7 linked regions of the Homo sapiens genome follow. The protein of the gene in region 5 purifies or fractionates together with the protein of the main gene of each other region. This does not show direct contact. Each region holds a gene or a part of one and is shown on either strand. Other genes may lie near its edges. The genes, in order: CAP1, TPX2, DNAAF5, LARS1, GSTM3, TBC1D2B and OXSR1.

The links.
Region 1: the proteins of GSTM3 (region 5) and CAP1 fractionate together in Homo sapiens (co-fractionation; one large-scale study listed by BioGRID). This does not show direct contact.
Region 2: the proteins of GSTM3 (region 5) and TPX2 purify together in Homo sapiens (affinity purification with mass spectrometry; 3 studies listed by BioGRID and IntAct, with this or other methods). This does not show direct contact.
Region 3: the proteins of GSTM3 (region 5) and DNAAF5 purify together in Homo sapiens (affinity purification with mass spectrometry; one large-scale study listed by BioGRID and IntAct). This does not show direct contact.
Region 4: the proteins of GSTM3 (region 5) and LARS1 fractionate together in Homo sapiens (co-fractionation; one large-scale study listed by BioGRID). This does not show direct contact.
Region 6: the proteins of GSTM3 (region 5) and TBC1D2B purify together in Homo sapiens (affinity purification with mass spectrometry; one large-scale study listed by BioGRID and IntAct). This does not show direct contact.
Region 7: the proteins of GSTM3 (region 5) and OXSR1 purify together in Homo sapiens (affinity purification with mass spectrometry; one large-scale study listed by BioGRID and IntAct). This does not show direct contact.

Annotation. Positions count from the first base shown.
Region 1 is NC_000001.11:40,064,729-40,068,228, forward strand, and holds part of CAP1 (adenylyl cyclase-associated protein 1), read left to right. Parts: intron 1-1,486; coding exon 1,487-1,592; intron 1,593-2,811; coding exon 2,812-2,989; intron 2,990-3,500. UniProt on the Homo sapiens protein: Directly regulates filament dynamics and has been implicated in a number of complex developmental and morphological processes, including mRNA localization and the establishment of cell polarity.
Region 2 is NC_000020.11:31,798,290-31,802,300, reverse strand, and holds the end of TPX2 (targeting protein for Xklp2), read right to left. Parts: intron 3,937-4,011; coding exon 3,749-3,936; intron 1,332-3,748; coding exon 1,221-1,331; 3' UTR 501-1,220; downstream 1-500. UniProt on the Homo sapiens protein: Spindle assembly factor required for normal assembly of mitotic spindles. Required for normal assembly of microtubules during apoptosis. Required for chromatin and/or kinetochore dependent microtubule nucleation.
Region 3 is NC_000007.14:750,699-754,198, reverse strand, and holds part of DNAAF5 (dynein axonemal assembly factor 5), read right to left. Parts: intron 1-3,500. UniProt on the Homo sapiens protein: Cytoplasmic protein involved in the delivery of the dynein machinery to the motile cilium.
Region 4 is NC_000005.10:146,179,851-146,183,785, reverse strand, and holds the start of LARS1 (leucine--tRNA ligase, cytoplasmic), read left to right. Parts: upstream 1-1,135; 5' UTR 1,136-1,292; coding exon 1,293-1,298; intron 1,299-3,935. UniProt on the Homo sapiens protein: Aminoacyl-tRNA synthetase that catalyzes the specific attachment of leucine to its cognate tRNA (tRNA(Leu)).
Region 5 is NC_000001.11:109,733,437-109,735,737, forward strand, and holds the end of GSTM3 (glutathione S-transferase Mu 3), read right to left. Parts: 3' UTR 501-2,301; downstream 1-500. UniProt on the Homo sapiens protein: Conjugation of reduced glutathione to a wide number of exogenous and endogenous hydrophobic electrophiles. May govern uptake and detoxification of both endogenous compounds and xenobiotics at the testis and brain blood barriers.
Region 6 is NC_000015.10:78,015,212-78,018,711, reverse strand, and holds part of TBC1D2B (TBC1 domain family member 2B), read left to right. Parts: intron 1-754; coding exon 755-865; intron 866-1,972; coding exon 1,973-2,166; intron 2,167-3,500. UniProt on the Homo sapiens protein: GTPase-activating protein that plays a role in the early steps of endocytosis.
Region 7 is NC_000003.12:38,228,037-38,231,536, reverse strand, and holds part of OXSR1 (serine/threonine-protein kinase OSR1), read right to left. Parts: intron 1,851-3,500; coding exon 1,802-1,850; intron 1,173-1,801; coding exon 1,107-1,172; intron 1-1,106. UniProt on the Homo sapiens protein: Effector serine/threonine-protein kinase component of the WNK-SPAK/OSR1 kinase cascade, which is involved in various processes, such as ion transport, response to hypertonic stress and blood pressure.

The sequences.
Region 1 (3,500 bases), about 70 Mb from region 5:
CCATGCCTGGCTAATTTTCTAATTTTTTCGTAGAGATGAGGTCTCACTGTTTCCCAGGCTGGTCTCTAATGATTCTCCTGCCTTGGTCTCCCCAAAGTGCTGGGATTACAGGTGTGAGCCACTGTGCCCAGCCAAGTTCAGCTTTTTCTCAAGGGGTAAAGGATAAACCCATTTGGTTACTTGCTGGAGTAGCACTTTGGAGTTACTGAGGGCTGCCCTTAGCCACTGTGCTGGTTTTATCTCAGGGCTGCTTTCTGGAGAGCTTTACAGATATTGTCTCACAGCTGCATTTGCAAGCAGGAAATACTTCTGCTTCCACTTCTGCTTTCTCTCCTTTTTTGGTAGAGGCCCTTTTAGTCTTCTGATCCTTACCCTTCTGGGTTTAGGAAGTTTTGCTGGCAGTAACATGGACTAATGCCCTTTATATAAGATTTTGTTCCTTTGTTGAGAATTTGTTACTGGCCCAATGGCAAAGGGTTCAATAGGACTTAATAGAAATTTTTCATGAAGTCAGTTAAAGTGAGAGTAAGGCTGCCTAGCCAATGCAGGTATTACGTAGGGCAGTCATTGCATGTCTAACCACATACGTCTACCAGTTCTGACTTCTCCATTGCTGGTTTTGAGCTGGAATGATTGCAGGCAAAATTTATTAAGTTGCATATCTACACAAGCCTTTCCTTTCTTCCATCCTTCATCAATCAACAAACATTTATTAACTACTCTTTTTAAGGAAAACTACACCTTCCTGTGAGTGAAATGTGTCCCAGAACAACAGGCACTTCCTTATCCTTCTAGCAACATGGAATTAAGCATGACAGTGTTTTGATATATCCCACCATTATCCCATCACTTTACAGTTGAGGAAACTAGGTCTTAGGCTAAATAACCTTCCCAGTTAATACATAAGAAGAGAGGGGACTTGAACCGTAGGCACAATGCTATTTCTATAATTTAAGGCTGATTGTTTCCCCCTAAGGGAAAGTTTTTAAGTTTGCTTTTGGTCAGGGTGGGCATATTTTGACATAAGGCATTGTCTCATAAGGCAGTTAAGTTTCTTAGTCTTTAGAGTTCCACAGTGATACTTAAGAGCTCTCCTCTCTACCATGGTTTTATGCACAGAATGTCTGCTTTTATCAGTTTTACATATTAGATTGTGTTTAAGGTCTACTTTGAAAAAAGTTTCAATAAGCAGCAAGTGGTCAAAAGAAAAAAAAAAGTTTTGGTACTTAAAACAGTTTGAGAAACATTGCTATGAGAGATAGAGATAGAATCCAGAGTCTCTATCTTAGTGGAGTTTGGTCTGATTAGGGTAATAGACTAGGTTGTATATACATAGAAGCTGGTGATGATAGAAAAGCTGCCATTGAGCGGAGCCTAAGAAACACCACGGGTAGGAGAATGTGAGCCCATAGGAAAGAAGGGTTCTGGAGTCACCACTGTTATGTACCCGGATCACCTGTGACAAGTTCTTCTTTAATCCTCCCAGGGATAAGAAGCATGTAGACTGGGTCAAAGCTTATTTAAGTATATGGACAGAGCTGCAGGCTTACATTAAGGAGTTCCATACCACCGGACTGGCCTGGAGCAAAACGGTTAGTGAATCCTTCCTCCCTCCCTCCCTCCCTCCCACTTTCTCTCTCCAGCATGGGGTCCACAGGTTTCTTAGACTTCAGCACTACCAAAGTCTGTGAGGGAATGCTAGTTTTTTCAGTGGAAGGGAGGAAGAAAAGGAGGAGAAAGAAAGGGTAAAAAGAGTAGAGGAAGCAAGGATCAGAGGAGAAGGAATATTCAGTGGTATTCAATTTCAATAAATATGTTAGGGACAGTGATTGGTGCTGGAGCAGGAGACACACACAAATGAGTTACACTATCCCAGCCTTTAAGGAGCTTAAAAATAAGAATGCAAAACCCCAATACAAATCACCAAGCCAAATGCTATAATAAAGATACAGACTAGAGTATGAGGAAGAGAAGAGTGCTTCTCACTAGAAGAGATTGTACTTTGAAGGTATATACTCTTCTGTGAGACTTGAAAGTAGTATAGGGCAGTGAGAAGTGGGATACTACAAAAGGCACAGCTTAAACAAAATACATGCAGAGTAAATGTAGAGATTGGTCATCTCTGGCTTCAATAAGGGGAAATGATCAGAATTTTAGGAGAAAAGGCTGGAAAGGAAGGTAGGCTGAGACTTTGGGATGAGGTATTTGAGCAAGGGAGTGATAATGATTCAATTTGTCTTTAAAAGAGTCTCAGTGTATAGGTTAGGGATAAGGACTCATGCTCAGATTATGAAAGTGGTCATGGTGTTTGGGGGATAGTAGAAAAACATTTGCAGGAGATAGCACCAAGATAATAGAGATTTGATAAGGTCGAAGAAGTTGGAATCCTCAAAGAAGATTGAATAGTCAGTCTTGGATAGTAACATCTTTCACTGAAATAGGGACAAGGGGATGATTGTACAGGGAGAGGAGCGGCAGGAAATGATGAAATCAGTTTTGAATCTGTTGAATCAGAGGTACTGGTAACACACTAAGGAAGATGTCAAGTAGATTTGTGGAAATAGTTTTTAGAGCTGGAATCAGGTGAGTTCAAAGGCAAAATGTGATGGTCAAGAAATAGAACTGAGAGCTGGATCCTTGGGAAAGGGTGAGAAGGCATAAAGCCAAGTTGGGTATGGGTAGGACACATTAATCATTGCCTCAAAGGCTGTGGTGGGGACCCCATGTGCACTGGCCCATGTAGGGCACTACTGGGAATGGTACAGAGGGGAGCAGAGAGGATGATGATGTTACCTGCACTTATTGTTCCAGGGGCCTGTGGCAAAAGAACTGAGCGGACTGCCATCTGGACCCTCTGCCGGATCATGTCCTCCTCCCCCTCCACCATGCCCCCCTCCTCCCCCAGTCTCTACCATTTCATGCTCATATGAGTCTGCTTCCCGCTCATCACTGTTCGCGCAGATTAATCAGGGGGAGAGCATTACACATGGTGAGTGAGCACTTGGACACGAACAGTAGGTACAACAAGTTGTGTGGGCCAGACCCCACCAACCAGAACCGTCTGTAAACTACAACCCTGGCTTGTGTGGTGGAGACTCGTTTGGTGTGTCCTGTTCCTTTAAGGGACGGCAAAGCTGGCTTAAATGGAAATTGAAAATGATGATCACAGTTGGAGGAAGCCATCTGCCCCATGGGAAAGTGACTTAATATTAGGTAGCATATATAGAGGACCCTCTTGTGCCAAGGCACAGAGCTGGCGGTTTTCCCCAGAGCTTTTTCCGTGGCACCACATGGCCTCTGGGAAGGCATTGTGTTAGGGAGTTAACTTCCTCAGAAGATGCATACTGGTTACATGGAAAATTTGCATGAGAGTGACCTAATGTTGGTATAAAGTAGATACCCTTAACACAGCTGGTGGAAGTCTGAGTTGTCCAGCCACTTCTAGGAATCTATGATCATAGTAGCTAAAAATGGTGTAACAACCTAAATCCAACTGTAAG
Region 2 (4,011 bases), on a different chromosome or scaffold from region 5:
CTGTGTGAAGGCATAACATACATGATTAAGTGGTTACTGAGAGAGAGTTAACAGAATATGGAGATATTCTGACATAAGACAGAAAAAAATTACAAAGTACTGTCCTGGGCCGGGCATGGTGGCTCACGCCTGTAATCCCAGCACTTTGGGAGGCCGAGGCGGGTGGATCACAAGGTCAGGAGATCGAGACCATCCTGGCTAACACGGTGAAACCCTGTCTCTACTTAAAATACAAAAAAAATAATTAGCCGGGAATGATGGCGGGCGCCTGTAATCCCAGCTACTCGGGAGGCTGAGGCAGGAGAATGGCGTGAACCCAGGAGGCAGAGCTTACAGTGAGAAGAGATCGCACCACTGCACTCCAGCCTGGGCGACAGAGCGAGACTCCATCTCAAAAAAAAAAAGTTCCTGGACCCACCTCTCAAACTACCCATTTCCCAATAAGATGTGACCTCCAAAGGGGCTTAACAGATTTAAAAACATCAAATAACACAATCAGGGAGGGAAAGACAAAACGTATTTATTCCAGGCCAGGTCTTAAAATGCACACTGCACGGTTCCCTGTTGTTATCAGCACCAGTAAGGAAAGAACGTGCCTTAACGGCAGCCCCACCCAGAGCCTGCTGCGTGGCTGCTGTGAGGCTCCCCATGAATCCACGCAGTCTTCTTCCTCACTGGTGCAGTTGGTGAGGTTTTCTACCCTCACAGCAAAGGGATCCTTAACTATAAATTCACGGTATGCAGAGAAGAGGACAGAATCTGATTTACTGATTGTTCCTCATTTAAACCATGACTTAATCTCTATCTTAGGATTTAACTATCTTTATTTTCTGGTTAAAATTTTTAAAAAAAGTGGGGAGAGGGTGAGAGTCGTAAGGGGCAATAGCAATAGAGATTACACTGTGCTGACACAGAGACTAAATTCTAGTCAGAGTGAAGACCCATATAAAAGGCCGGCTGATGGTTTAAAGGAAGTAACTACATGGAGTCTAATCGAGACATTCATGAGTTACATCTCATTATTAGCCTTAGTAATGTAAGAAAACAATTCTCAACAAAACTGGAGTCCACAGTTGTCAAGTATGCTTTCTCAGGCACGGGTAGGTAAAAGTCTGGAGAAATGGGTTCTCTCCATGCCCAATGACAAAGCAAGACGGTCCTAGGTTTGAGGTTAAGAGCAGGTCCCATTGCCGGGCGGTATCCGCAGCTCACAGCTGAGTTTAGCAGTGGAATCGAGTGGAGAATTTGGGAGATACAGGCACAGTCAGAGGCTGGTCACTTGACTTTATCTCCAGACCCTGGTACTTGCGTATTGGATTTGCCTTATGCACCTGCAAAGTAAGGAAAAGTTACCAGTGAGAGGGATGTCAGAGAACTACGCTTATAATTGCTTTTATTTTTTTCTTTTTGAGAAAATGTTTGTAGAGTTTTACAGGTCCCAGTCACTAGTTTCAGGTGTGGGGAGTGGGGCCTGGGGGGCAACACGGTATGATGGAAAAGTGTATGTGCTTTGGAGCCCAAAAGGGTTTCTATTCAGGTCTCTATTGGGTCCCCCAGCTTTCCTTTAGGCCACAGTCTCCTCAAGTCCCTCAGCTTTCACTAAAGAATGCCAAACCTATGTCCTGTGTGATTTACTAGGGTATAATAGGGCTGTACTCAAGTATAGCAGAGAAGTTACAAGCTAAGAATTTCCCAGAGTACAGTCTTAAGTTTACTGACTATAAATATTCACCAAAAGCCTGAATCCTGGGGAAAAAGCAAAAACAAAACACAACAACCATACCAGGAAGGGTGGCTAAAGAAGGCATGGTCCCATCCATCCTTTAGGGTAGTCTAAAATCAATCCTAAATCAAGCCAGATTAGTAGAGAGTTAACCAGCATTGACTGAATTGTGCTTTACAATGTTGCCATCAGTTATGTTGAGAATTGCTGCAAGAAGCAGTTCTATAATGGGGACAAACACAAGAGGCAGGTACCAAATGCTAAAGAAAAATCAAAGTTGAGGCCGGGAAAAAAGGCTGATTGTATGAGTGTATATAGAGTGGGGATTATACTATTTTCTCATTCACTCAGCAAATGGTAGTCTAGATTTTACCAAGAGGCTGGTCTCCTAAATAGTGTGTCCGTGGAACCTTCCTATGGGCATAATCACCTATGCCAATAGCTGCCAATAGCTGTTTCAACTGCTAGTCTAGCATTTTATTTATTTATTTAAAATAGAGATGGGACTTTGCTATGTTGCCCACGCTTTTCTTGAACTCCTGGGCTCACGCAATCCTCCCACCTTGGCCTCCCAAAGTGTGAGGATTACAGGTGTGAGCTGCCACATCCAGCTGTAGTATAGCACTTTTAGACAAAACCTCAACAACTTACACTTCTTTTTTTTTTTTTTTTTTTTTTTTGAGACAGTCTCGCTCTGTCACCCCCAGGCTGGACTGCAGTGGCACAATCGGCTCACTGCAACCTGGGCCTCCCAGGTTCAAGCAATTCTCCTGCCTCAGCCTCCCGAGTAGCTGGGATTACAGGTGCGTGCCACCATGCCCGGCTAATTTTTGTATTTTTAGTAGAGACAGAGTTTCGCCATTTTGGCCAGGCTGGTCTCCAACTCCTGACCTCAAGTGATCCACCCACCTGGGCCTCCCATAGTGCTGGGATTACAGGTGTGAGCCACCATTCCTGGCCTTCTTTCTTTTTAATTGACAGATAACACTGTATATTTTTATTGTGTACCGCTGATGTTTTAAAGTAGACATACATTATGGAATGGTTACTATGTGAGATAATGCATTTGTTAATTAGCAAGATGCTAATTAACATTGTAGTGTGAGCACATAACATCCACTTATTGTAGTGTGAGCACATAACATCCACTTTCTTTACAGTTTTCAAGAATACAATATATCATTAACTACAGTCACCTTGTTATATGATAGATCTCTTGAAATTTACTCCTCCCATCTAACTGTAACTAAGTAACCTTTTACCAACATCTCCCCATGACCCTTTCTTTTTTTATTTATCATACGAAGTTCCATCTAAAACTGTCTGCTTCTTCATTAACACAGTTAACACAACTTGCTGCCCTCCTAGCAGATTGGTCCTTAATGTGGAGTTCAGGTTTCTTTTTGGATAACCAACATCTAAATAATTATGTTAGTAGAGGATTACCTGGAGCGACGAACACTGTAACTCCAAGGAGTTTGGGCTCAGTATTAAAACAAAAATACAGTTGCCATTTAATTCCCATGTCCTTCGCTATGTATTCTTGTCTAATTACAAAACTCAGTGGTGCTTCTTAACCCCAGAGGAAATAATAAGTTACATAAATAAAATAAACAAATAAATAAAAAACAGTCCTAGGAAAGGCATCATGGTTATACCACATGTTGTCCTCCTTATGAAAACTTCCGGAAGAAATTCTGTCTAAAAATTCACTATCAAAGGGATAAATGTATTTTTTGAACAACTGTCTTATGTCTCATGAACACTGCGAGTTTTGTAACTGACAGGTTGGTTCCTAAAAAGGGCCAAAATTACAGCTCCTACTTAGATCACAATGTACACATCGTTAGCTTCATTCACAACTCAACTTCATCACCACCCTCAGTTTGTGCAATTCCCCCTTTCACTCATTGTCTTTGGTACAGCCTTGCGGGCTACCTTAGATCCTGTCTGGTACAAGGTAAGGTACAGGTAAAATAAAACAGAGGCATGTTTGTGTTCGTCAGTGCTCATGCTCCCAGTTACCAGTTCTCTCCGTAGCCTGGCCAGCTCCTCTTTTTTCTGCTCTTCCTCCTGTAGTCTGGCCTCCTCCAACTGCTGGGCTTTCTGGGCTTCTACCTCAGCCATTCTCTTCTCCAGCTCCTGCCGCTCTTTGGCTCTCTTCTCAGTAGCCAGCTGAAAAGGTTCCTGAACTAGAGAACCAGAAAGGCCCTCTAAGTACAGAAACAGAAAAAATATTGGTGCACAAGCAGGACTTGCATAAACCTACGCCCCCTGGAATGAGCAAG
Region 3 (3,500 bases), on a different chromosome or scaffold from region 5:
AGCGAGACCCTGTCTCAAAAAACAAACATTTAGAGCCACACAGAGATGCAAACAACACACTTGCCACACGTGCTGACGTGTATGATCAGAGAGACACGCCTGCGAAGCCGTCCCCCTATGATCAGAGAGACACACGCCTGCGAAGCCATCGCCATATGATGAGAGACACGCCTGCGAAGCCGTCCCCCTATGATCAGAGAGACACACGCCTGCGAAGCCATCGCCATATGATGAGAGAGACACGCCTGCGAAGCCGTCCCCATATGATCAGAGAGACACACGCCTGCGAAGCCATCGCCATATGATGAGAGAGAGACGCCTGCGAAGCCGTCGCCATATGATCAGAGAGACACGCCTGCGAAGCCATCCCCATATGATGAGAGAGACACGCCTGCGAAGCCATCGCCATATGATGAGAGAGACACGCCTGCGAAGCCGTCGCCATATGATCAGAGAGACACGCCTGCGAAGCCGTCCCCATATGAGAGAGACACGCCTGCGAAGCCGTCCCCATATGATCAGAGAGACAAGCCTGCGAAGCCATCGCCATATGATGACAGAGATACGCCTGTGAAGCCGTCCCCATATGATGAGAGACACGTCTGTGAAGCCGTCCCCATATGATCAGAGAGACATGCCTTCGAAGCCATCGCCATATGAGAGACACGGCTGCGAAGCCATCGGCATGGTGGGGGTGACAGCTGCGTCCTTCGCCCGGCTTCCTCTGCTCCTCTGCACTGCAGCCCCCAAGGCACCCCGGCACCCCTGGATCTGTCCCGTGACTGAGCTGCACTTTCTAGAGCCTGACACAAGTGGAAGCCTCTCGTTCACTCTCCTCCCTTCTCCGCTTCTTTCACTCTGCATCGTTTTCTGAGGCCCGCCTGTGCCCGCTCCTTTCTGAACCTGGGAAGTGGCCTGTTCTGGGGAGATGCCAGTTTAGTGCCCGCTCCTCTGTGGAGAAGCATTCAAATGGTGTCCAGGGCAAGTCTGTGTGGCCTGGGCTTTCACTGTGCCGGGACAAATACCAGCTGTGGAAGGGCTGGGCCACAGGGAAGGTGCACGTTTAACTGTTTTAGAAACTGTCCAACCATTTTCCAAAGTGTTTGAGCCAGTCCGCGCTCCTTCCCACTCTCAGCGGCACGCGGTACGCTCAGTCTTGAATTGAAAGCAGTCCGAGAGGCACAGTGGCATTTCCGTGTGCTTTTCCTTTGCATTCCCCGATGACTAACGACGCCGAGCGTCTTCTTCACAGGCTTGTTTGCCGCCTATCTTCCCTGGTAAAGGGTCTTTCCAAATTGTTTTCTGCCCATTTAAAAAAATGGATTGTTTTCCTGCTGAGTTTCAAGAGCTCTTCCTATACTCTGGAGATAAATCCTTACATACATCATCTCCAAACATCTCAGTCTTTGGTTTGTCTTTTCGTTTTTTCAACAGGCCTTTGAAAAAGCAGAAGTGTTCATTTTGATGAAGTCCACACATTGCTTTACCCTGTTACAGAGCGGTCTTTTGAGGACGCACCCAGGGAAGCGTGGCCCGGCCCACGGTCACGAAGCCTTCGTCCTAGCTCTGCGGTCTTTTGAGGATGCACCCAGGGAAGCGTGGCCTGGCCCGCGGTCACGAAGGCTTCGTCGTCACTCTGCAGTCTTTTGAGGATGCACCCAGGGAAGCGTGGCCCGGCCCGCGGTGACAAAGGCTTCGTCATCACTCTGTGGTCTTTTGAGGACGTATCCCGCGAAGTGTGGCCCGGCCCGTGGTCACGAAGGCTTCGTCGTCACTCTGCAGTCTTTTGAGGATGCACCCAGGGAAGCGTGGCCCGGCCCGCGGTGACAAAGGCTTCGTCATCACTCTGCGGTCTTTTGAGGACGTATCCCACGAAGTGTGGCCCGGCCCACTGTCACAAAGGCTTCGCCCTAGCTCTGCGGTTCTGGGCTTTACCTTCAGATCCCTGACGCATCTGGGGTTAATTTTTTGACTCCAAGTTCACTTTCTGGTGTATGAGTGATCCTATCATTTACAGTATCCTTATTAAAAGATGCCATTAAATGGTCTTTGAGCCTTCATCAAGTCAGTGGTCCGCGTGCGGGCGCCTGTTTCTGGACGCTCTCGTTCTGCTCATCGGTCTGAAAGCCAACACCACGTGGCCCCATGACTGTGGTTTTGTGAGTCTTGCACCCAGGACCTGCTGCCATTCAGCTTCACTCCTCCCCAGTGTTTCGGCAGCTGTGGGTCCTTTGCACGCCCACGAGAATTTCACAATCAGTTTGTCGATTTCTACAGAAAAGCCTTCAGGGACTTTGATGAAAAGATTCTGATCTTCAAAATTCAGGCCGGGCACGGTGGCTCATGCCTGTAATCCCAGCACTTTGCGAGGCCAAGGCAGGCGGGTCACCTGAGGTCAGGAGTTCAAGACCACCCTGACTAACATGGTGAAACCCCGTCTCTACTAAAAATAGAAAAAATAAGCCGGTCGTGCTGGCGAGCGCCTGTAATCCCAGCTACTCAGAGGCTGAGGCAGCAGAATCACTTGAACCCAGGAGGTGGGGGTTGCAGTGAGCCAAGATTACACCACTGCACTCCAGCCTGGGCGACAGAGTGAGACTCCATCTCAAAAAAAAAAAAAAAAAAAAATTCAGAACAACTGTAAAGATAGAAATGAAACCATGATATGTCAGGATTTAAAGGGTCTTTTTCTATTTTTAGAGAAAGGGTCTCACTCTGTCACCCAGGCTGGAGTGCAGTGGTACGATCACAGCTCACTGCAGCACTGACCTTCTGGGCTTAAGTAACCCTCCTGCCTCGGCCTCTCAAAGTGCTAAGATTACAGGTGTGAGCCACTGCATCCAGGCTAAAGGGTATGTTTTAATAAGAACAGCTTGTACCAGGACACCCCATTTTTAACCTTTTTCTGGTTATTTTTCTGTTTTTATCCTGTATTATGGAATTAGTTCCAAATAATTAAAATTCTGCTGGCTGTTTAAATGATCCTGTCATCATTTTGTAAAAAACAAAAAAGCCAGGGTGCAAACACACCTCTCTTCGTTTTTTTTTGAAATGCAGTCTCGCTCTGTCATCCAGGCTGGAGTGCAATGGTGCGATCTCAGCTCACTGCAACCTTCACCTCCTGAGTTCAGGCAATTCTCCATTCTCATGTCTCAGCCTCCTGAGTAGCTGGTACTACAGGTGCATGCCACCACACCTGGCTAAGTTTTGTATTTTTAGTAGAGATGGGGTTTCACCATGTTGGCCAGCCTGGTCTTGAACTCTTGACCTCAGTATTACAGGCATGCGCCACCACGCCCAGCTGCACCTTTCTTCCTGATGACGATCCGCTCTGGAAAGTTTGCAAAATGAGAGATGCGTGACCAGGAACAGCCGGGGAGGGGTCTGCTGACAGCTGAACAGAGCTTTGTGGGCACCTGGGCTTCTGGGTGTTTCCAAAGAAATACTGGCCGGTGCTGGGCAGGGGTACGCAAGGCCTGGACACAGGCTGGGACTGGTTT
Region 4 (3,935 bases), on a different chromosome or scaffold from region 5:
CGCCCCTGGCCCTGTTTGGTAGTGGTCTAAATAGTCTGAGTCAGGCAATGGGACCAGGTAGGCTTTCAGTCTCTTGCTTAAAAATGGAGATTGTTGGCCGGGCACGGTGGCTCACGCCTGTAATCCCATCACTTTGGGAGGCTGGGGCGGGCGGATCACGAGTTCAGGAGATCGAGACCATCCTGGCCAATATGGTGAAACCCCGTTTCTACTGAAAATACAAAAATTAGCTGGGCGCGGTGGCGCGCGCCTGTAGTCCCAGCTACTAAGGAGGCTGGGGCAGAAGAATCGCTTGAACCCGGGAGGCGGAGGTTGCAGTGAGCCGAAACCGCGCCACTGCACTCCAGCCTGGAGACAGAACGAAACTCCCTCTCAAAAAAAAAAAAAAAAAAAAAAAAAAAAAAGGAGATTGTTGGCTAGGTACGGTAGCTCACGCCTGTAATCCTAGCACTTTGGGAGGCCGAGGGAGGCAGATCACGAGGTCAGGAAATCGGGATCATCCTGGCTAACAAGGTGAAACCCAGTCTCTACCAAAAATACAAAAAATTAGTCGGTGTGGTGGCGCGCGCCCATAGTCCCAGCTCCTCGGGAGCCTGAGGCAGGAGAATTGCTTGAATCCGGCAGGCCGAGGTTGCACTGAGCCAAGATCGCGCCACTGCACTCCAGCCTGGGCGACAGAGCGATACTGCGTCTCAAAAAAAAAAAAGGAGATTGTCAATACGCGGTTATACAATGTCTAAATGCTGGGCTGTTGAATGCCACTGACAGTAAAAAATATCTGTGCATAGTGGCAAGCCATAAGTAGCACCTCAGTCACCGTATAGTAATTAACTGCGTATCCTGGCATCCCGACAGGCAACCAGCTCTACCGGGTGAAAAGGTTGATGGCCAAGGGACTCCAACCTAACCAGGGCGCACTCGCGGCATTCTGCGATCCCGCACTGCATCATGGACTTTGTAGTTCAACATGCCAGTGACGTCACTGCCGGTTCCCCTCTGAGTGGGCCTATCGGGTAGACTTCCGATAACCCGTTTTTCTCTGGGAATTGTAGTCAGTTAGCGCCTGCTGGGTGTCTGCTCGGGTGGTCTGGGAACTACAATTCCCGGCGGGCTGTGAGATGCCTTGGCTGTAGTTAGTAAGGAGCCGGATGATTGCCTCAGCAGGTGTGAAGCGTGTGCTTTAGTTTCGTGGGAGGCCTGGCATCCCCGAGAGGGAGGGGAAAGGTAACCACTCCTTTGTGGAGGTCGCCAGGGTCATTGTCGTGGATTTGCACAGTCGGCTGGGCGGTGCAATGGCGGTGAGTTTGAGCGAGAAGAATCCGCAGGGGCCCTGGAGCCGGACTGGCCAGTCTCTAGGGGCTCTCCATGTGCTGTCCTGAAGGGAAAGTCCTTTTCTAAAAGAGAGCCACGCTTAAGGCGTGCCTTTCGTAGAGACTTTGCTTTTTCTTGCTAGTTTATGAACCACGAACTGATGTCTGTTAACTTTACGGAGTACTTGGATATCATATTTGTTATTTCTCTGGAGTTTCTAAAATCGAGGTGGAGAGCCGGGCACGGTGGCCCACGGCTGTAATCCCAGCACTTTGGGAGGCCGAGGCGGGTGGATCATTTGAGGTCAGGAGTTCGAGACCACCCTGGCCAACATGGTGAGACCCCGTTTCTACCAAAAATACATAAATTAGCCGGGCGTAGTGGTGCGCGCCTGTTAACCCAGCTACTCGGGAGGCTGAGGCAGGAGAATTGCTTGAACCCGGGAGAGGGAGGCTGCTGTGAGCCAGGATCGCGCCACTGCACTCCAGCCTGGGCGACAGAGTGAGACTCCGTCTTAAAAATAAAATAAATAAATAAACAAACAAATAAAGCCGAGGTGGAGAGAGGAGTATGTAAGTTGATTCCTACTTACAGCAAAAAAAAAAAAAAAAAAAAAAAAAAAAAAAGAAAAAATTGAGCGCCTCTCCGTAAAACAGACAAAAATCTCTCTTTTCATAGTGTTTATGTGTGTGGGTAAAATACATTGTAAAATATTGTGTCAGGTGCTGATAAATGCTGTGGGGAAAAAATAGAGCAGGAAGGGGTGCTAGGGAGTGTACGGTGGGGTAGTACAGTTGCAATTTTTAAAAATTTTTTTAAATTTGGGAGATGTTCTCACTCTGTGACCCAGACTGGAATGCAGTGGCGTGATCATGGCTCACTGCAGCCTGGACCTTAGGGCTCAAGCGATCCTCACACCTCAGCCTCCCCACAGCTGGTACTGCAAGCGTGCTCCATTACACCCTGCTAATTTTTTGTATTTTTAGTAGAGACAGGGTTTCGAACTCCTGGGGTCAAGCGATCCTTCTGTCTCAGCCTCCGAAAGTGCTGGGACTACAGGCATGAGCCATCCCGCCTGGTTTTATTTTTTTTTGTTTTTTGTTTGTTTGTTTGTTTTTTTCTTGAGACGGAGCCTTGCCCTGTCGCCAGGCTGGAGTGCAGCGGCGCGATCTCGGCTCACTGCAACCTCCTCCTCCCAGGTTCAAGCGGTTCCCCTGCCTCAACTTCCCGAGTAGCTGGGACTACAGGCGCGCGCCACCATGCCCAGTTAAATTTTTTGTATTTTAGTAGAGACAGGGTTTCACCACATTGGCCAGGATGGACTCAATTTCCTGACCTCGTGATCTGCCCGCCTCGGCCTCCCAAAGTGCTGGGATTACAGGCGTGAGCCATGGCGCCTGGCCTGTTGCAATTTTTAAAAGGATGATCAAGCAAGGCTTTGCCAAAAAGGTGGCAAAAACGAGGTAAGAGAGCAACCTATGCAACTATAGGAAGAAAGAGATTTCCAGGCAGGGGCAACAGTGTAAGTGAAAAGCAGGGATCCCGGGTAGAAGCCAGGGATGCTTCTAAACATCCTGCAGTGCACAGGACAACCCCTGAAAACAAAGAATTATTTGGCCCAAAGTGTAAGTAGTGCCAAAGTTTAGGAACTCTGATTTAGTTATATAGCCTTTTGTTACCAGTGAGGAGGTTGAGTCTCAGATTGATCAAATGACTTGCTCAAGGTTATACAACAAGTTGGTGTTTGGGCCAATATCAGATTTTATTATACTTGATCTTTGAGGTTTTGAGAAACAAGTTTTTCTGAGAAACAGAAAACTCAAATAAAAGCTTTCTTGCATTTGGCATACTCAGTACAATGAAAAGAAACACATAGTTCTAAGTAATTTGTAAAAGACTTGCTTTCATAGTCTTCTTTACAATGGGTGACATGATCATATTTTTTATTTTTATTTTTATTTTTTTTTTGAAATGGAGTCTCATTCTTTCCCAGGCTGGAGTGCAGTGGTGCCTCCCAAGTTCAAGTGATTCTCCCACTTCAGCTTCCTGTGTAGCTGGGACTACAGGTGTGCGCCACCATGCGCTGCTAATTTTTGTATTTTTTGGTATAGTTGTGGTTTCACCATGTTGGCCAGACTGGTCTTGAACGCCTGACCTCAAGTGATCCGCCCACCTTGGCCTCCCAGAGTGCTGGGATTACAGGTGTGAGCCAATGCACCTGGCCATATTTTTTATTTTTTGAGACAGGGACTCACTCTATCAACCAGGCTGCAGTGCAGTAGTGCAATCATAGCTCACTGCAGCCAGCCTTGATCTCCTGGGTTCAAGTGATCCTCTGGCCTCAGTGTTCCCATGTCCTGCTCATGGTAATTTTTAGGTAAAAGATATTTGTTACATAACTTCTGTGTCTGTGGCATTGTACTTTGTGCTAAGGTGACTATAAACAATTTAAAAGTTCCTGCCTGTTGAGAATTTACAGCCCAACTGCATAAATGTCTTAAGATCATTGGTTGCATTTAACAGAAGTCAACTCAAGTTGGTTAAGGAGGAATTTAGTAATAAAGTGGAAGTTGGCCAAAGGCGATGGCTCAAGCCTGTAATGTCAGCACTTTGGAAAGCCAAGG
Region 5 (2,301 bases):
AATAAGAACAGGTGATGGGATGTCACTGCTGTGATCAGATTACATAGGACTGTAGTGTTCCTTCTTCCAGCAGACTCCTTTACTAGCTTTGGTGAAATGGGTGGCCGTGTTGAGGAGATCCCTTTTGCAAGGAACTGAAGGTGGCTCTAGCCGACAGCCAATGAGAAATGGAGGGCCTCTGTCCCACAGGGAACAAAGAACTGACGCTATCAACAATTACACAGACTTGGAGGCAGATCCTTCTCCCACTGAGCCTGGGGATGAGATCAGAGCTCTGGATGACACACTGATGGCAGTTTTCAGATGAAACCCTGAGCAGAGGACCCAGTTCAGCTGTGCCCAGACTCCTAATCCACAAAACTTTGAGACCATAAACATGTATTGTTTTAGCTGCTAAATTTGTGGGAATAGTGTAGAAGTCTTCTTTTGCCCCTGGAGTATGGCAAGGTTCAGGCTATTGTCCCATGACCACGAAAAATTAGGCACATGGACATGGAGAGTGAGTAGGGCAGAGTAGAATTTATTGGGAAAAAGGAAAGCTCTCAGCAAAGACAGGGGTCTTGAAAGCAGGTTGCCAGTAAGGCGTCTGTGTTCTGTGTCTTTTATGTGGCAGAAGCTGGGAAGTCTTCTGTGGGTTTTGCCCAGATGAGAGAAGTAACATTTTCTTCTTGGGGTACTACAGCTGTGCATGCCTAAGTTTTGCCAAAGGGACTCCATCTTGGTTATTACCCATGAGTGCCTAAGCAAAACCCATGGGGGTGCTAAAACCACAATGCTAATGTCATGTTTAATGACATTATAATGAGCTGGGTTAAATTAGGGACATTTAGGCTGATTTATTGTGCCCGCACCAAAGTTGGGATGGTCACTTCTGAGCAACATCCTAGCTTAAGGGTAACTTCTTCCGTTTTTCCTATTAACTGTAGAGGCAGTATAGGCACTGTCTTGCCGTTGTTCTTGTGAACATAGTTCCTTTCTATCCCTTCTCCTGAGACCTTCCCTCTCTATGTGCCTATCCATCCCTTAACTACCTCCTCTCTTAACAGTGTTACACAGCAATAAATAATGCATTCCCTTTTTGATTTCTGGTCATATCATCGATCTAGCCCCAGGGGCATCCTCAATTTCTCTGTCCTGCCTTAAATACACAAGGGTAGAGCATACCGCTCCCTCACACTATGGAAATTATATCAATAGTTATCAGACTGAAAAACTTCTGAGCTTTATACCTCTTCTGGCCAAAGGCTCCCCCATGCCCAAGATACTGGCCTGAACACCTAATCCCTGCTCACAGGGGGTGGCAAAACATGGCAGTTGAATTGTCTGCTTAGCACCTTCTGTCTGTACTATTCCTCCTGACATCACTGGGTATCCCTGCCATTTGGGCCCTCTGACCATCACTAGAGAGATCCTTGGCTTCTGGTCCATAGGGGATGGCAATCTGGCCCACAGGCCTATCTCTGAAGACTATTCAGACTCTGCTCTGTGAAAGGAGAGTGGTGCCAAGTCATCTCCACAGGAGTCAGTGTTTCTTAAGTTTGCTTTCTTTTCTAAAAACTAGTTTCTACTACACAAGCAATGCATGAGCACATTCTCTTAGTTAGAAAAGCAAGTCTTAGCCTTAACTTGGAAATGCCCTTTAACTTCCACCATGGAGTCTGGGCCTTTATCCCACTTGCCTGCAGTAAGACTGTTATGAGTTTGGTGTTTCCCTCCAGACTCTTCTCTATGCTTGGAGATCTTTTTTATTTTTTTAAGAGACAGGGTCTTGCTCAGTCACCCAGATTGGAGTGCAGTGGCAAGAACACAGCTCACTGCAGCTTCAAATTCCTGGGCTCAAGTGATCCTCCCACCTCAGCCTCCTGGGTAGCTGGGACTATGCATGAGCAATTGCGCACAGCTAATTAAAAAAAATTTTTGGGAGACAGGGGTCTCACTATGTTGCCCAGGCTGGTCTTAAACTCCTGGCCTCAACTGATCCTCTCACCTCAGCCTCTGAAGGTGTTGTTATTACAGCTGTGAGCAACCACACCTGGCCTGTTTTGGGGATCTTTGCATGTTAGTTCACACAGTTCAGTCTCATTCTTCCGTTGCCACATGGTACTCCATAGTATTGACAGGTATTTACACGGTTTCCACTTATTTGTCATTACAGACAATGCCACAGTGAACATCTTAGTATATGTCTCTTTGAATGTTTTTTTTTTTTTTTTTTTTTTTTTTTTGAGACAGAGTCTCGCCCTGTAGCCAGGCTGGAGTGCAGTGGCGTGATCTCGGCTCACTGCAACCTCTGCCTCCCAG
Region 6 (3,500 bases), on a different chromosome or scaffold from region 5:
CTTGGAGTTTCAAGGGCTGAAGCCAATATGACATGTGTCCTGCCCCGACCTGCTCTCAAAGTTGGACTCGGCAGAACTTGTCACCAGCTTGTTATGTTCTTTTATAGACAGAAAGCAAATAGGCAAAGGTTAACAATTGGCTAATTTAGGTGAAGGCTATATTGTGTTCATTGTACTTTTCTTTCAACTTTTCTGTAAGTTTGAAATTTTTCAGTGTTGAAGAATATGTTCTCTTACGTGCCTTATACGTTTTAGGTCATAGGATTTGTTATTAAGAGTGATTTTTAGTTATGGGCTGTATATGTATGTAGACTTTTTTTACGTAAACTGGATAAGTGAAGATGAGAACCTTCAGAAAATATGTTCAGTTTCTCTAGTTTAAAAAAAAGTAAGGTATTGCTTTTTTTTAACCACCTCAATGAATATGGAATATGGATAGATAAAATATTTGCATAGATTTAGGAATATGTCATATTTATTTCTCCTGTCATCAGTTGAGAAAAACTACCACAATTAAATAAAAATATCTTCTCCATCTCCGTTACGGCAGTCATGCCTGCCTGCCTTCTACTACTGTAAATGGCCAAAAAGATTAATTAGGAAGTGCCTTTTAACAACTTCTAGTTCTTTAGAACTTACTCTAACTTAGCAGGGCTATTTGATTGGTGAAGCAGCAAGCTACTGACTACATAGGGTAATTAATTAGTCAATATTCAACCAATGTGAATTCAGGGATTTTTTTTTTTTCTAACAGGATAATCTACAGGGGTACAAAACCCAAAACAAATTTCTAAATAAGGAGATTTTGGAACTCTCAGCTCTACGAAGAAATGCAGAAAGGAGAGAGAGGGATCTGATGGCAAAGGTGGGTCAGGATAGGTGGATTCTATTACCTGGTGGGAGGTAAGGTTAGGAAACCATTAAAAATAAGCATGCTTTACAAAGCGGTTCAACTCCCAGGCTTGGAGAGATGTGGTTACTGATAACAAAATATATTTAAAATACATATAATACATAGAGCTGTATAGTTAGTCTCATTTTATTATCTCTGATGAAGACAGATAAATGCCGTGAGATGTGAGTTTTTCACATAAACTGGATAAGTAAGAATGAGAAGCTACAGAAAATGTGTTCAGTTTCTCTAGTTAAAAAAAGAACATAAGGTATTGCTTTCTTTGTGTACCTTTGTTCATAAGCATTTTTAATAGATTTTGAAGAAAACAAAGTAAGTACATAATTATAAGGTCACCTAAATTAAGATTATTTGGGTTTTGATTTATGCTGTTCAGTTTTGTATTTATGGAGATGGTGAGGTAAATGCCTCCTCTGTGAACCCAATAGGGTTGGTGTGAAAGTCAGATATGATTATGGCTGGAAGGGGCTTTGCACAAAGTGTAATGGGACCACAAACATTTCAGCTGTCATCAAATGAGCTGTAATCAAATGATACTTGTCAACAGCTGTTATATACCTGATATACTTTTTTGAACAGAACTTGAAGCATCTTCCCAGACCTTATTCCTGCATGTTTTCTAGGGTATATTTGATTTGTCTGATAAGGTGGCAGATGGGAGCTAGTCCTGGACCACAGTGTCCTAAGAAAGAATGGGTATAGCATGGAGTGGCCACTCATGGGCCATGTGCCAGATGGCACCGAGCTGGACCTCAGTAATTGGCATGTAGCCTGGTTCCTGCTGCTCTCTCCACCTCTGTCCAGAGGTGATGCATTTGTTGGCATCCAGAGGTCTGATTATCAGCACTCCTTCTATAAGGAAGAGAGGAACCCACTGCAGGCCATTTTAAACATGAAAGGTGGTCTGTGGCATAAATTAATTTCTTGTCTTTGCTACAGTCTGTCTCTGGCTCACTTCCTAATAGTTTTGGGTTTGTTGTTCACTGGTCATTTGCGTACCTAAAGATTGCTCTTCCTGTGTCTCTGTCTGAATGGAGGTAACCACCACATTCTCTGCAGTATTCTAGCCTGGAAGCCAAGCTCTGCCAGATAGAAAGTAAATACCTGATATTGCTCCAAGAAATGAAGACACCAGTGTGCTCAGAAGACCAGGGGCCCACCCGGGAGGTCATAGCCCAGTTGCTGGAGGATGCTCTGCAGGTTGAGAGCCAAGAGCAGCCGGAGCAAGCATTTGTTAAACCTCATCTTGTCAGGTAAATGTGCTAGTGACTGTTGAGGGTAGTGCACCCCATTTCTGAAGTCCCTTTTTCAACAGCAGGAACCATTCGCAGAGAGCCGTACACAACTGTGTGTCTCATTTGGTGCTCATGACAAATGCTGTCAGGTCAGCAGAACGGTAATGTCTTCATTCTCCCCTAGTAATCAAGTCATAGAGCGGGGACTTACCACAGGTCTTCTGATTGCAAGACCTATTTTTCGTGTAAGTAAGGGAGCCTTCCTTCTGATCCTTCCTTACTTCAGGAGGAGCCAGTCTTCCAAGGAATAGGAACCTTCTCCTAAAACATAGCCCTACCCACAGGTGGTTCAAAACAAAGGGACCCTTAAGTGGGGAACTGAGCTTACACACACACACACCCCCCATATATTTTTGGGGAAAGCACTAAATCTGGAAGCCAATGATGGATCTTGGATTAAGAACCCTCTCATAACCTGTCTTCTAAAAAATATGAGACTCATGAAATACTTGAACCAGGAGAAATCTACAGATTCACGCAGTTCAGCCTCTTGTTTCCACGACTCAGGACCAGCCCTGTGTCTAGGCCTTGCTTACTGCAGTCTCCTTGCTTCTCCTGCCCCACCCCTGTAGGCCCAGGTGAAGCCTTGCTTCAGTTTGACATGACCTTTCCCTTCTCTGAGCTTACAGCACCAGCCTGCATTGTTTGGGCTACTCAGATGACAGAAATATGCTCAGAAAGTACCCAACACCATCTTTACTAAACACTTTTATGGATGTTTGCCATGTGCCAGGAGCTGTGCTAAGGGTTTTATGTGCAGAGTTGTACTTAATGTTCAGTGAGGTGAGTGTTTTTATCCTCACTTTACAAGTGAAGAAGCGGAGTATGGAAGTGATATAACTTGCCCAGAGTCACCCAGCCTGTGAGTGGTGAGGACAGGCCCTCAGCCTGGATAGTCGGGTTCCCAGGTGCAGTAGCTCCACCAGTACGCTGGGCATTGCTGCTTTGCTCATCGTGGTGGCTGTTAACTTCTGTGAGCTCTTGGAGCGCTTCTAAACGTGCTGTGTGTTCTTCCCATGCAAAAGCGTTTTGTGCTCTTACTATTTATATTGTGTGTTCAAATTTTATATATAAGTGAAATAACCATATATATTGGTTTATTTTCAACTTTTTCTTATGGAAAATTTAAAACATACAAAGAAGTAGACAGAATTATGTAACATATACCCCTGTGTGCAACTAACTTGAGCAATTGTTAATGTTTTGCCAATATAGTTTCATTTTACCTCCTCACTCCCCACAGTTTTTTTCTGGAATATTTTATTTTATTTTATTGTTTTGTTTTGTTTTAT
Region 7 (3,500 bases), on a different chromosome or scaffold from region 5:
AGGGTACTGTTTTAGTAATCAGAGAATATTATTCTGAGGAAAGGCCAATTGAGTAGACTTGACATAAAGTGAAGGAATGAGCCAAGTGAGTTTTTAACCTAGTAGCTATCCATGAGAATAATTGTCCAGGTCTCATCCACTAGAGTCATGACTTTAATTGGTTTGGGATGACATTGTCCATGTTTCTTTCTTTTTTTTTTTAAGTCCCCAAGTGATTCTGATATGTAACGATGCATTATAGCCACTGAAAAAGATATATCTCTAAAATAGAGACAAGTTAACTGTTTTACCAGTGCTTATTAAGAATATCATTTCCAAGTATTTAATATACATTTCTGGTTCTTCATTGTGTTAAATTCTTGGAATGTATCAAAATTCCCAAGCAGTGAGATCTACGGAAGAGAATAAGCCACTGCTAGACATAATGCTTCTAACTTCTTGGACAGGCCTACCACTATATTATACAAGGTGTAAGACCTTTACCTTCTTCAAGTCTATCATCAGCAGAAGCCCAAACTGCCTCCTTTCCTTCACATTGGATAAGTCTGCTTGAGCAGAGAAGTAAGAGTGAGGAAAAGGGAGGATTTTCTTCTCCCTGCTCTCACAGAGGTTCATAAAAGTATCATGGACAGGAAGATTAATATATTCTGCCCAAACTGAGATATTAAAGCATTCTGTATGCTCACATCATGACCAAACTTCTTAGAAATTACATATGCGTAATAAAGTTCTTTCAGTCTTTCTGTAAAGGCAGTAGAAAATTTGGAGTTCCAAAGAGGGTACTGTGACTTATACCCAAAGCTATAAATGTCATGTAAAATCACAACTCACTCTGGTAGCTGGAAACAGTTATCAAACAGAGTTTAGAATTAATTTACCAATTACTGTCTAGCATCCCTTTTCATCCTAAAAGATAGCAGAGTAATACCAAGGCATATGGTAGACCAAAGATATTTGCTGAATGAATGTATCAAAGAATGCTTTAGAAAGGATCGACAGAAAACCAGTAATTCTCATATACTATTAACAATGTATTACTTAACATGTTTTCAAAATGCAAAAATAAAGTAAATTCTTCAGGAAAACTGAGTTAAATTCTGATTTACCTTTTTTGCTCTTTCAGAAATGGTTGGTGCTCTCTGCAATGTTTTTTCTTGAAGAAATTCTTTATTCTGGAGAGGAAAAGTAAGTATTTTGTTCTTACAAGTTTTTAAGGTACCAAAAAAAACCCACAAAAAAGTTCACCATAATCAAAATGTGATATAGTAACTGTTCTGTAATGAAGTGTGAGAAAAACTTTCATTCTTTCACTCTGAAGCTCCTTTAGTATGTTACTACCACAGTTTCATAAATTGAGGCAGAAAATTAAGATGTAGTACACTGTATGAACCACTGTCTATGAAGAGTTTGCTGTACTGTATGTTCTTTGAGATCATGGTCCTACATTTCCAACTACAGTAACATCCTACTATCTGATATATTTGGGAAATGAGATGTTTACAAATTCAGTAGTAAACCTTAAAACCAGAGTTCGGTATTTTTCACAAATTATATTTATAATGGCAAAATTTAATAATCATTGTTCCTATGATCAGTTTAACCTAATATTTAAAAACGGATTTACTAAATTCTGAAGCAATTATCTTAATTATCAAAGACTGTATACATAGTGCTTTCTGCAATTATTTTATCTACCATCATTTTTCCAAACATAATCATCCAACTTCTAAGCACTGAACATAATCTGAGTAATTGAGGAGCATCCTATGAACACACATAATCAAAAGCTGGAATTTCCTACCTTTGCTTTCTGGAAAAATTTGTGCCTTAATAGTTCTGCTGCTGTTGGTCTAAAACCAGGAAGGGAGGGAAGAAAAGTTTTTATAATTAATTCAAGTGTAATGTCAGATTCCATCATCAAAAATGAGAAAAAATTTTTTTCAACAGCAAAATAAAAACTCAGTATACTCTACTTTCCTTAAACTGCTAAAAAGCAAAAGTAAAATAAACTTGATACAGGACATTGAATAAAATAAAAAACTCAAAACAAATATTCTGATAATTATTGTAGATTCTTTGAAAAAATCATTAGTGAAATGTTTTTTCTGGAAGCATGATTTCTTAATAGAGTCTAATATATTTGCTATTTAATAATATTAATTTAATATTTAATATTATTTCCCAATAAGTAAGCTAGAAAATATCTATCTAACATTTTTAGCAAGGCATAAAAATATATTTAAACACACAAAGAGGAAATGGACCAAATCAAGACCTCCACTTCTTGCCACATGGTAGCCTGCCAGCCTTCAATTTAGGTAACCACAGATCCCTAAAAACAGATTTCACAATCTCCCTTTAAAAATGAAAATTCTAAAAGTATATTCCCCAAATTTAACAAAACTCAGTGTTTAACTCATTTCTTCATGGTCTTATTTCCTTTTAAGTAAAGACACGACTGTCAATTTTACAAGCTTTTAAAAGAGTATCATTCAGAATAAAGAATTTAACATTTAAGAGACTGGACCTGATTTTGCCACACACCTACCTGATCCTGAGCAAATCACAACCTCTCTAAGGTTCAGTATTACTTGGCCAAGCCCCTAAGTTCTTAAACACTGCTGTGCATTGAACTATCTGGGAAGAATGTAAAAATCCCAATGACCAGAGGGCACCATGGCTCATGCTTGTAATCCCAGAACTTTGGGAGGCCAAAGTGGGTGGATCACGATATCAGGAGTTCAAGACCAGCCTGGCCAATATGGTGACACCCAGTCTCTGCTAAAAAAACCACAAAAATTAGCAGGGCATGGTGGCGTGCGCCTGTAGTCCCAGCTACTTGGGAGGCTGAGGCAGGAGAATTGCTTGAACCCATGAGGCGGAGGTTGCAGTGAGCCAAGATTGTGCCACTGTACTCCAGCCTGGGCGACAAAGCAAGACTGTCTCAAAAACAAACAAACGAACAAACAAAACCAATGACCAGGCTGTACCTCAAACCAATTAAAGCAGAATCTTTAATTGGCTTTAGTAATGTTTAAAACTCCCCAGGTAATTCCAATAGGCATTCAAGTTTAAGAACCAGCACCTCAGATGATTATTATAAAGATTAAAAAGCTGAATAAATGTGAAAGTGCTATGCAAACTGAAATCCTACATTATCACTCTTATTTTTTCATATGCTCAACAATTGCTTCTCAATATGCTCAACAATGTGATTGCTCAACATTGCTTCTTATTATTCATTCCTTTCTTCTGACTTCATTTCCTTCTTTCTAAAGTACAACTTATGGGTTCTTTAAGTGACAGAACGTGACTGGAAAACTCAATTTCTGTGTGCAAAATAATTTCATGCTCATTCTTGAATGATAGTCTGACTAGCTGGAGAACTCTGGGTTAAAGTCACAGTCATGAGCCTCTTAATGCTTTGGCCAACAATATACTGTGTATCTGACAGTAGTCAGAGCAACAGGCTACACTAAATAGCCTAGGCATGCAGTAGG